Linked DNA regions of Homo sapiens. The protein of the gene in region 2 purifies or fractionates together with the protein of the main gene of each other region. This does not show direct contact. Each region holds a gene or a part of one and is shown on either strand. Other genes may lie near its edges. The genes, in order: USP48 and BRAT1.

Region 1 (4,633 bases), on a different chromosome or scaffold from region 2:
GTAAGGAAAAGGAAGTGGCTTCAATCAAGCATTGTGCGAACTTTTATAAAAGTCTTTACCTTGGGAAAGAAGAAGTTTGTGTTATTAGTTTTAGGCTCCTGCATTCATTTCTTTGGAGCTAATAAAACAATGAGATCTAAAAATCAGGATCCATCAGCTCAACTTCAAGTCCTTCCCCTGTGCCAACCTCAAGGCCAGAACAGTTGGTCCCTTGGTTCCACTCCTAGGATGGTTTCTCAGGGGGCTGTGTGCAGCTCTCACCTTCCCCCATAGATAGGCTCATTAGAGACCCCCTGCCTCCTCAGGGGACACAGACTGAAGACATTAGAAACACAGAGGGGAAACACAAACACGAAGTTAGAATTTTACCAAATGGCCGTAATTACTCTGACAAAAGGAGCTATTCAAAAGGGATGCTGCCAAGGTTATCGGGTCTCAAATCAAAATCTGCCTTCCCCATCCATGATCTGAGTTCACATTTTCATGAAAGGGGGAAAAAGCCTTGCACAAACCCAAGGCCAAGAAAAGTGTTAACAAGAGAGATGCCTAAGCTAGCATCTCAGCCACAAACTTACACAGACGGACTCAACAGAGAAAACTTTTTTTTTTTTTTCAAAGGAAAAACTCCAGTCTTAAGTTCAATTAAAAAAACCCCTTCAATATTCTTAAGAATATTGCTTCGGTTACGTGTTGCTAAGAATGATAATCCTGAGTTGGATGGACAGCACATCCATATACTTTTTTCCTTTTTTAAACAATGATCTAAGAGACCCTCTCAGGGCATTTTGGAATAATGCTTTCAAAAAGAGAACTGAGGTCCAAGAAACAGTGACATGGAGGACAGGAAGAACAAATTTTATAGAAACCTTGTGTTATCCAAATGTACTTCAGTCTGATTTACTCTTCTGATAGGTAGTCAGATTTTTTATTTTCAAACGTGCCAGGTACATTTCCCACTTTTGAATAACAGCAAAACCGGAAGAGGATGCTTTCACACATAATAAATGTTCTCCATCCTTTCTGAAATGCACCAAAGCAAAAAGCCTCTGAAGTCAAAACATGAGACATAATTCCTTGCTCATTGCAGGAGACATGCAGGTGCCCCCTCCTTTACCCAATACCAAGAGACAGACGGCCGGGCAGGTGTAAGGCGGGTGGCGCTGCAGCTGACATGGAGAAGAGTCTAAATCTGAAGACACTTTTCCACACTTAGGACAAGTTCTTCACTTTCATGCTTTATTGAAAGTAGAATATGAATCAAAGACAGGCATTGGTAAGCAGGTTATGTCTCTAAAATTACTTTTCGTTCAGAGCAGAATGTTGTCCCATCTACTTGATACAATCCTTTATGGACCAACGCATCTGGTATGAAACTCGAGCAAGGAAATATAACAGAACTTTATTCCCCTCCCACGACTATAAATCTCATATGTAAACATGATTTACTATTACTGCTACTAAACTTGTTCCGTCTTTACTTGCCCCCTCCCACCCACCACCCCCCTTAAATATAAAATTGGAAACATTTCCTTCAAGTCTGATGTCCATCAGTGCAATCTGCTTTATTTGACATAAGGCATTTGGGACAGTCACGTTTGAATGGATTTCTGCCTTTTGGAAGGGGCATGTAATGGTTTAATTCTTAAATCCACCTTTGCTTTAATGCCCTAACATGTCAAACTCCTCTTCCCCTCTGGTCATTTCTTAGCAGTCAGCAAGTATTCAAAGATTAATGTCCAAGAAGACCAGTACCTGGGAAAAGAAACACACGTGGAGGGATAGTTGTGAACTACAGATTAAAAGTTCATGGATTCCATTTACCAAGAACACATCATCAACAGGGAGCATCAAATTTAATAAATGAACACAGTCGCACCTTGGTGTGGGAGGATAAGACAAAATACCAGCAGACTCCAGGCTCTCCGCTAAATCACATTTTTGTTGAAAGCCATGTGCTTCCTAAGTGTATCTTCACACAAACTAACCAGATTTTATTGATTCTTTCATTTAATGACCATTCTTCTTTTCTGAGAGTTTCACTCTTGTCGCCCAGGCTGGAGTGCAGTGGTGCAATCCTGGCTCACTGCAACCTTATCTCCCAGGTTCAAGCATTCTCCTGCCTCAGCCTCCCAAGTAGCTGAGATTACAGGCGCACGCCACCATGCCCGGCTAATTTTTGTATTTTTAGTAGAGATGGGGTTTCACCATGTTGGCCAGACTGGTCTCGAACTCCTGACCTCAAGTGACCCACCCGTCTCAACCTCCAAAAGTGCTGGGATTACAGGCGTGAGCCACCATGCCCGGCCAATGACCATTTTTCATAAAGACGTTTTTTGCTTTGTTTTGACCCCATCAGGAGTCCCTTTGTAATGGTAGCATGCAGACAACACAGCTGCAGCAAGAGGAAGACTTTATTTTGGCCAGTAGATTTGTCTCTCATTTGCTTTAGCAAGGAATAGCTGGTATGTGATTCAAAGTCATTCCTTAGAAAATCACAACCTGCCAGGGGCTTCTGGAGTGGCCAGCAAAGAATCAAGACAGCAACAGGAAAATCCGAAAACGTCAGAGGTCTGTATTTGATGACTTCTTGAATATTATCGGTGTGCACAACTACATGGCCCAGATGTAGTACGAGCACCACCGTGTCTCCTCTTGAAGTAATAATCCAACAAATGCCTTAATGCTAAGTGATTAATTAAATCTTTTCACTGGACTTGATAAAACCTGACAAATTCTTGTGCCACTAATTCTTAATAGTTACACACTGTTTTGCTCTAGGAGGGGACTTGATAGGAAGAACTGGGAAAAGGTTAAAAATAAATCTTGAAATGCCACTAGCTAATTTCCCAACCTCCCATAAAATGAGAAAGGGAAGGCCAAATGGACATCTGGCAAGAAACAGTTCTAACACAAAAGCCCCAGCTGAGGCCCCATTTGAGGCCTGAGTGTTGAAAAAGATAATGAAGAAGCTTGAGTAAGAAATGCATTTAACTAAAATTAATTTCAGTCATGAGACTCAGATTGGATTAAAATTTAAAATCAAATTATAGCCTTCGCTTTAACAGAAAATTACAGGATGACTCTGACATTCATGAACAAAACATGACAAATGTAACTTACCTTTAAACCCTTCTTCTGGCATACAAACTGAAAAAAAGAAAAAAAGAAGAATTCCAAATTGAAAAGATTGTCGTGACAGACAGTAATATCATTTCAATGCTTAAAGACAAAAGTTTAAAATAACTTTTGATTACCTTTGTCACCTGTAATAATCATCTTTGAAGTTACGGATGTTACTAATTTCAGAACAATCTTTGTTTCTGTTTTTATCAAAGCAATACGTATGCATCATTTAAAAAGTCAAATACTGACAGGACAAGGTTTGTAACTAGGGCACACCTAGTGCACGACTCTAGGAGTGGCCTGGGAGGAAGCCATGTAACTGACTCCTCTGGAGCTGTCTCTCTCCCCTTCCTCCTCCCATTCCCAAGTTCTGGAAGGAGTCACTTTTGACTCACACAGCAGCTTCTTCTGGTATTTAGCCTATTTCTAAATAACATGCTTTTCATAATTTTATTTACTTTTTTTTTTTGAGAGGGTGTCCAGCTCTGTCACCCAGAATGGAGTGCAGTGGCATGATCTCGGCTCACTGCAACCTCTGCTTCCTGGGTTCAAGCAATTCTCCTGCCTCAGCTTCCCAAGTAGCTGGGATTACAGGCACCCACCACCACACTTGGCTAATTTTTGTATTTGTAGTAGAGACAGGGTTTCACCACGTTGGCCAGGCTCGTCTCGAACTCTTGACCTCAAGTGATCCGCCCGCCACAGCCTCCCAAAGTGATGGGATTACAGGAGTGGGCCATCGTGCCTGGCCTACTTCATAATTTTAGATAAAAATCTAATAAATTCTTCAGTGAAGGATACAAACAGCTGTTTTACCACTTACATAGCACCTGCCCCGACCCATCCTCCTGATGAAGTGGTGTTTGTTGTTGTTAAGCCAGTCTCCAGCGCTGGCATTACTTTTTACGCCATTAATACTAGTCACAGTTGAATGCCTTGGTGCACCTTGGTTATATTTACTACATGGTATGACTTGGTCTTTCTGGGCTTGGTAACTACTGAATTACTGATGTGTTTCATTTTCTCTGTATTTATCTCCAATTCACGTGTAAATTCTTAAAGACCTGTAACCTCTTGAAGACAGTCATCATCCCTTCCACTTTTCCTTGTGGCATCCCTTCCTGAAGCTCGCATCCCACCACTCCAATATGGATCAGGTGTCTTCGCTGCCTGCTGAAGAACAGTAGTTCTGAGACTTCCCTTCACCATCTTCTAGGGCATCTTATCCTAGGCTGATCTGCTATTTACTGGGTCCACTGTTGATTCTTTCTTGATTTAATGTTTAAGAAGAAGAACACATCCTCACACAGTATCATGGCAGACGGTGCATGACAGATCAATCTTTTGAAGCCCTGAATATGTTCAAGGGGCCATCAGGTGTGAGGGTTACAGACTTATAGATTGGAACTTGCTTTCCCTCAGGATCTTGCGGGCACTGCTCTATTATCTTCCTGACTTCATCCTGTGAATTTGACTGGCTTTCCCTCCTACTTCTAGATGCTTTCATGAC
Region 2 (7,281 bases):
CTGCGGAGGCAGTGTTGGGGCTGCCCCTGGCCTCCCGCAGGCTGCTGTAGGAAGCAATCTTGTCCCTCAGGAAGAGAAGGAGGTCACAAGACTTCTGCGCCACAGGGCGGTCGCAGTCAAACAAGGCACAAAAGGCGAAGTCAAAGAGCCCCACGTGGCAGAGAGCCCTCAGTGCCTCGGTGAGTGGCTGGGCTGGGGCCACCTCGGGTAGGGCCACGGCATAGGGGCAGTGGGTACGCGGCGGCCCCAAAGTCTGGCCCAGGAACACGAGGGCCAGCTCCAGGCCCTGGGCGCGGACCTCCCAGTCCAGGTCTCGGCTCGCCGCCTGCAGCACAGTGGCCACGAACTGCTCCGTGTCCTGGGCCGCGTCGGCGTGGCCGTCCCGCAGCCACTCAGTGAAGACTTGCATGACCGCCCGCCGTGGGAAGCCCTCCGAGTCTACGGAGAGGATGTGCAGGAGCTCCAGGAACAGGCTCTGGGGGACAGGGAGCAAGTGCGGATGGTTGGTGGGGTGGCAGGAGCGAGGCTCCCGCAACAGGACTCCGGTACATGATGGGGGCTGGCCCCGGACATGCAGTCTAGGGCCACAGCCCGCTCTGACACCTTCCCATGCTGCGCAGTGAGCACACGGCCCTCCAATCCTCAGTTTACCCATCTGTCAAATGGAGGTAACCATGTCTAAGTGGAGGGGTGCTGGGGAGACAGAAGGCGAAGCGCACAGGTCCCACACCCAGCACAGCCCCAGGGCCTCGGCAGTCACTGCTGCAGGCGCTGCCCACAGCAGCAGCTGCTCCCACGCTGCATGCTGGCCGCTCGACCACCCGCAAGCAAACGAGCACACACGATGGCCAGGCGGGAGTTGCTGGCTGAGGAACCTGCCACCTCCTACCTGCCGGGCCTCTGCATGCTCAGGGCTGGTGGGGGCGTGCAGGCCCTGGCTGGACAGCTGCCCCATGGCGGTCACTGCACTCGCTCGGACATAACTCTCAGGGTCCTGGAGGAGCTGCAGGGCCAGCTGAGGCACCTCTGAAGCCAAGAGTGCGCATCTGAAGTCAGCCTGTCCTGGGGGTCGAAACGGCCACATGCAGCTGTGACTGAGGGCCGAGCCTTGTCGCCTCGGCCTCTGCCTCCATCCCCTTGTGGGCAGCCGACATGGCCCAAGTTTCTAGAGCCAGCAAGAGGCTGCTGGTGCACCCTGGCTCAGTGAGCCCCCCACAGGCGGGGAAGGCAGCCCCTCCACCTGCCAGCACTCACCTCCCCAGTGCCTGCTCAGCTGGGTCAGGAACTCGAGGGCGGAGTCCCTCACCTCCCAGCAGGGGTGGCACAGGCGTTTCTGCAGCACAGGGAACAGCTCTAGGGTGGGAAGGGACAGGTCAGGGTGACCTTGGGGCCAGGCTCACCCTGCCCTCAGAGCCAGCTGAGCCATTCCACCCAGCCCCTGCTGCCTCCACCCCTGCGACTCCAGCTCCGTTCACCCCTGCAAGGGGCTGCGTTACCTCTGAGGAACTGCGGGATGAGGGGGCCGAGATCAGAGCAGCCGGGGGTCTTGGGTGAGCTCAGGAGCCACCTGAGCGTGGCCTGGAAGGCCTTCTTCAGAACCTGGAGCAGATAGGGTGGGCTGCAGGGCCACGGGAGACGGAGGGGCAGGCTGTCTGTCTGTCCCCCTCGCCTTCACCTGTGCTGCCCGTACTCCAGGGACAGCAATGGGGACAGGAAGTGGAGAGAGAAGGGAACGCTGGGCTTCCTTCTTTTTTAGAGACAGGGTCTCAATGTGTCATCCAGGCTGGACTGCAATCACAGTTCACTGCAGCCTCCACCTCCCAGGCTCAAACAGTCCTCCTGCCTCAGCCTCATGAGTAGCTGGGGCTAGAGGCACACATCACCACGCCTGGCTAATTTTTGCAGTCAAATGCTCTACCCCTGAGCTATACTCCTGGGGCTAATTTTTCTATTTTTTTGTAGAGATGGGATCTTGCTATGTTGCCCAGGCTGGCCTCAAAAGTCCTGGGCTCCATTGATCCCCCCACCTCGGCCCCCCAACGCACAGTAATCACAGCTGTGAGCCCCACGCCCCTCCTGGGCTGATTTTAATAGGGCAGAATATGCTGCAGAACCGGCTTCCCAGACTGTGAGCAGGAGGAGGTGGTGGCAGCCCTCACCAGAAGACCCACAACCCAGGCAACGGGATTTCTACATCAAAACATGACCAATTACGCAGGGCACCTTTTCCTTAGGATCCCAAGAAGCCCTGGGCCCTTCCTCCAAAGTTGTCTGCTGTCTGCTCAGCGGCAGGTGGCACAAGGTCTGTACCTGCCAGGGCCCAGCTCCGTGAGGGGCTGTGGAGTAGGCACATTCACAAATGGCGCTTAGGAGAACCCAAAGCCCACGCCCAGGGCCGTCTTGGTGCCACCTCATTTCCCTTGTCCAGAATTCCCCGCAGGCCGCCTGACCAGTGCCCCTGCTCCCCACGGCCCCACACACCCCTGCGTGCTGATGTATCTTCACCAACAAGAGGCCCTGGGCCCGCCCCATGCAGCCACCTGCATCGTGAAGCTCTCTGAGCAGCAGCTCTGTGGCCCTGTGTGAAGGCCCCATCCGCAGAGGCCTGCACGGGACGGGGTGGAGTCAGGGGTGGGTCCCACTGCCTCTGCCTCCCTCCTCTCCTCGCTCTCTATCCCCACCACCGTACCGTGGGGCTGGAGCCGGGGCTCTCGAGGCACTCCAGGAGGACAGCAAGCGCCTGCGTCACCAGCTCCTGGGGGCCTGAGACAGAGGTGAGTGGATAAACCACCCCCACCCCCACCCTAGGACCCTCCCCATCAACTCTGGGAAGGAGCAGAACAAGGCCTCATCCGCCAGCTGAAACCTCCTGCACGGCCCCTGCACCCCTCAGCCCCCACCCCAGAGAAGAAACAGAGAGGGACAGCAGTTCCCGGGTGCCTCCGAGCAGAAAGGAGAGTGGGGGCACAGGGATAGCCCCACGCCAAAGCCGTACAGAACACACTCACCTGTCCCCTGTGACAGCGTCCCCAGGAAGTCGAGGGCTGCTCGCTGGACCCGGACGCAGCCCGCCAGGGTCCCACAGAGGTGGCCCCCCACACTGGAGGCAGGGGCAGCCGAGCCGTCACAGAGCCGCAGGACAGTCACTGTAGCCCCCAGTAGAGACGCCTGGGGCCACGGTGAAGGGCGCTGGGGCTGCGAGGAAGAGGGCCGTCAGCCAAGGTTGCGGTCCCACTGCCGGCGTGGATGCAGGGGTGCTGGGACTTCGAGGCATGTGGGGCGGGGGACATCAGCCAAGGTTGTGGTCCCACTGCTGGCGTGGATGCAAGGGTGCTGGGGCAGCAAGGGGTGGGGGGCGTCAGCCTACGTTGCGGTCCCACCGCCAGCGTGGATGCTGCTGGGCTGCATGAGGACCGGGCCGCACCTACCAGCGGCTGCAGCTCCTCCAGGTGAGCCAGGGTGCGGCACAGGAGGCCGGCGCAGGACGACTTGGAGGCCAGGAGTGTGTCCACCGTCGTGGCATCGTCTGCCGTCCCGTCCAGCAAGCCTGGGGGCCAAGCCAGGAAGAGCTCCCTTAGAGAGCACTTCAGCCTCCCCACGGTCACCAGCCACCCCACGGTCACCACCCACAGCACAGGCCAGGACCTAGGTGCAGAGCAGCAGCTCACCAGGGGAGATGGCCATGTCCCCGGTCCCCTTTGCTCTTGGAGGGAGGCCTGGGTGTGATTAAAGTGGGGCGGGGGTGGCGAGCCAGCTACTCTCATCCATCTCCCTTCCCCCAGCCGCAGGGACCCAGGTTCTGCCCTCCCAGCCCTTTCTAAGCAGCACACCTGGGGGTCCGGGGGCCTGAACCGTGGCCTTCAGGACACAGGCCAGGGGCTGGAGAAGGACCTGGAAGGCCTGGGTCCTCAGTGCCTGTGGACTGGAGACAAACGCGAGGTGAGTGCCGCGACCCTGGCTGCGAGACAAGTTGGCTGTGCTCCTAATGTCCCCAGCAAGCCTGGGGCAAATCAGCCAGGGGGTTGGGACACCCCCCGAGAAACATTCTCTGCAGGCCACTGGCCAGGGGATGCCATGGGACAGAGTGGCGGGGAGGACAGGCCTGACCAAGGAGATGGGCCTGACACTCCTGATGTCCTTAGGAGCAGATACTGAGGGGCCTCCAGGAGGGCCTGGCCATGCACCCAGAGAGAGGGGCAGTGCCCGCTCAGGGGGACAGGGATGGGGTGCCCCCAGGTGTGTACAGCGTCCACTCTGTGGGAGGGACCTGCCCTCACGTCTGGGCCTAGGTGGAGGCAGTGTCCCCACAATGCATTCCTGCAGGGCCGGGCCTGTTCCTCCATCCTCCCCCGGTCTACTCTCTCCTAAACATTCGGAGACCCCGGAGCTCAGAGCTGGACCCTCATGGTACCCCTGGGCCCTGTGGGCAGCAGGTCCTGAGGTCACTTCCACCCCTATTGTGAGCCCACCTGGAACACTGGCAGGCCATCCACGGCCTTCCCACCTGTCCTGACCCCAGGCTCTGCCGTTGCACCGCCCCCAGGCCCCCCACCCGCATGGTGTGTGTGCTGGGGAGCTCCGAAACCCCCAACCAAAGCTGCGGTGGGGGACAGGTGGGAGGGCAGCGGAGCGCAGGGCGTCGGCAGGACCACCCTGCTCTGAGCAGAGCAGCTCCCGCATCCTTCTCACCTCTGGGGATCTCGCAGAGCTTTGGTCTGAAACAATTATTCTGTTGCTAAAGAACCTTCAGAAGCTGCCGCGCGCAACCCACGCACCACCCAGTCACACCCCGCACGGCCGCCTGACTGTCCCTGGTGTCCGGAACTCCCCTGCCATGAGGGCTGCGCTCTCAACCTCCCTGCCTGCCCCAGCTCCCAGCACCCGCCTCGGAATGAAATGCACCCCAGACCATACCAGTGCTCGAGCTTCAGGATCCCCAAAGCCAGGGGTCCCATGTGGGTGGGACCCAGGCAGCTCAGAGCCCGCGCCACTGTCTCCCACAGGCTGCCGTCGGAAGAACTGAACACGGGAGAACTGCAGGGAGACCCCAGAGAGAAAAATTACTCCCCCACCCTCAAAACCCCATTCGAGGCCTGGCTGAGACTGCCATGGCTCCGGCACTGGAGGCGCCCAGCCCAAGACAGGCCTTTCCCCATGAGGGTTCCAGGGTCACCCCGGTGCCGCTTCACTGCAGGCCATGTCCTCAGAGAGTCTCCGGCTGCCAGTGGGACATCCCTGGGCGTTATCCGAGGAAAACAGTTGCCCACCCAGGCCCCCCAGCTGCGTCCCGGGGCCCTGACCGAGCCACACAGAGAAGCAGGTCCACGAACGAGTGTGCGGCGGGGATGGGGTCTCTCTCCAGCAGACAGGCCACGCGGGGACTCAGCCGCACCCACAGGGCTTCCGTCCAGGGGCTCTGGCAGCGCCCGAAGGTCGTGGTCAGGACGTTCAGGGCCTGAGTGACCTTGGGGGTGGCCGCGGAGCACAAGGACTCTTCAACGTGATCCATGATCTTCTGGGCACACGCGGGCCAGTCACCCCCCGGCAGGCAGGGCTGCCCCTCGGCTCCACCTCGCATGGACAAAGCCAGGACGTGCACCAGGAGCTGACTGGCCGCCGAGGCCACAAACAGGCTGGAGTCTCCCTGCAGGGAGAAGATGGTGTCGACCGCACCTGGGTAGGGGATGGGGGAAGAGAGGGAAAAGGGGGTGAGCCAGAATAGAGCTGGGGGAGGCAGAGGGCCTCAGGGAAGATACAAATAGCAGAGGGCCCCCCAAGATGCCCCCAAATGCCTCTCCACTCAAAAGCAAAAAAGAACAGGAACTGAAGCTCCCTGGAGACAAGCACCTCCTCCCCCCGAGCGTTAAACACACACAGCTTGTGATGCTTCCCAATTCGTTCCTTCTTGTTGTTTTTTTTTTTTTTTTTTTTGAGACAGAGTCTTGTTCTGTTGCCCAGGGTGGAGTACAATGGTGCGATCTCAGTTCACTGCAACTTCCACCTCCCAGGTTCAAGCCATTCTGCCACCTCAGCCTCCCAAGTAGCTGGGATTACAGGCACCCGCCATCATGCCCGGCTAATTTTTGTATTCTCGTAGAGACAGGGTTTCACCATGTTGGCCAGGCTGGTCTTGAACTCCTGACCTCAGGTGATCCACCCGCCTCGGCCTCCCAAAGTGCTGAGATTACAGGCGTGAGCCACCGTGCCCAGCCTCGTTTCTTGTTTTTTTGAGACGGGGTCTTGCTCTGTTGCCTAAGTTGGAGTGCAGTGGCTCAACCACTGCTCACTGTAGCCTCGAACCCCTGGGCTCAAGTGATCCTCTTGCTTCAGCCTCCCGAGTAGCTGGGACTATAGCCACGCATCACCACGCCTGGCTCCCAAATAGTTTCAAAGACTGAGTCCTCACGGCTGATCTGTAAGTGGCTGAGAAAGCCGTCCTGGCTCCTAGGGCCTGACCTGCCAACCAGAGAACACTGGACAGCCGTACTGTCACAGTGCAGTCTTTGCAACAACCCTGAGACATCGCACAGACCAGACACTCAGATTCAGCAAGGTGCAGTGAATTCCCTGGGATCACACAGGCAGGATGAGGAATGGGGTGGGGTGTGGGCGCACTCACCATGGTCGGCCAGGAAGCGCAGGGCGCTGGGGTGCTGTGCCAGGGAGCGCAGGCCCTGGATCCAGCCGCTGCGCACGGTGGGGACGGCCCAGGTTGCTCGGCCGAGGGGTCCTGGCTCCCCAAAGAGCCCTGGTAGTAACTCCCCCTGCTGGGAAGCAAAAAAAGAAGTGAGGGTGGCCAGGCGCAGTGGCTGAAGCCTGTAATCCCAGCACTTTGGGAGGCCGAGGAGGGCAGATCACGAGGTCAGGAGTTCGAGACCAGCCTGACCAACATGGTGAAACCCCATCTCTACTAGAAATACAAAAATTTGCTGGGTGTGGTGGCATGCACCTGTAATCCCAGCTACTAAGAAGGCTGAGGCAGGAGAATTGCTTGAACCCGGGAGGCGAAGGTTGCAGTGAGCCAAGATCGCACCACTGCACACCAGCCTGGGTGACACAGCGAGACTCCATCTCAAAAAAAAAAAAAAAAAAAAAAAAAAAGAGGTGAGGGGACCTGGTAGGTTTCCAGGGATGTGGAGCAAAGCAGAGATGGGTTTTCAGTTTTCCAGGGCTGGTGGAGATACTTCTGGAGGACACTTTCTTCTTCTTTTTTTTTTTTTTGAGACAGTCCCACTCTGTTGCCTAGGCTGGAGTGCAGTGGCACATCTCGGCTCACTGCAA

What was found.
Region 1: the proteins of BRAT1 (region 2) and USP48 purify together in Homo sapiens (affinity purification with mass spectrometry; 2 studies listed by BioGRID, with this or other methods). This does not show direct contact.

Annotation. Positions count from the first base shown.
Region 1 is NC_000001.11:21,677,688-21,682,320, forward strand, and holds the end of USP48 (ubiquitin carboxyl-terminal hydrolase 48), read right to left. Parts: intron 3,148-4,633; coding exon 3,121-3,147; intron 1,753-3,120; coding exon 1,730-1,752; 3' UTR 611-1,729; downstream 1-610.
Region 2 is NC_000007.14:2,538,290-2,545,570, forward strand, and holds part of BRAT1 (integrator complex assembly factor BRAT1), read right to left. Parts: intron 6,768-7,281; coding exon 6,620-6,767; intron 5,674-6,619; coding exon 5,301-5,673; intron 5,035-5,300; coding exon 4,915-5,034; intron 3,923-4,914; coding exon 3,831-3,922; intron 3,548-3,830; coding exon 3,429-3,547; intron 3,196-3,428; coding exon 3,009-3,195; intron 2,764-3,008; coding exon 2,690-2,763; intron 2,606-2,689; coding exon of another isoform or gene 2,482-2,605; intron 1,619-2,481; coding exon of another isoform or gene 1,600-1,618; coding exon 1,497-1,599; intron 1,354-1,496; coding exon 1,255-1,353; intron 1,063-1,254; coding exon 890-1,062; intron 656-889; coding exon of another isoform or gene 476-655; coding exon 1-475. UniProt on the Homo sapiens protein: Component of a multiprotein complex required for the assembly of the RNA endonuclease module of the integrator complex.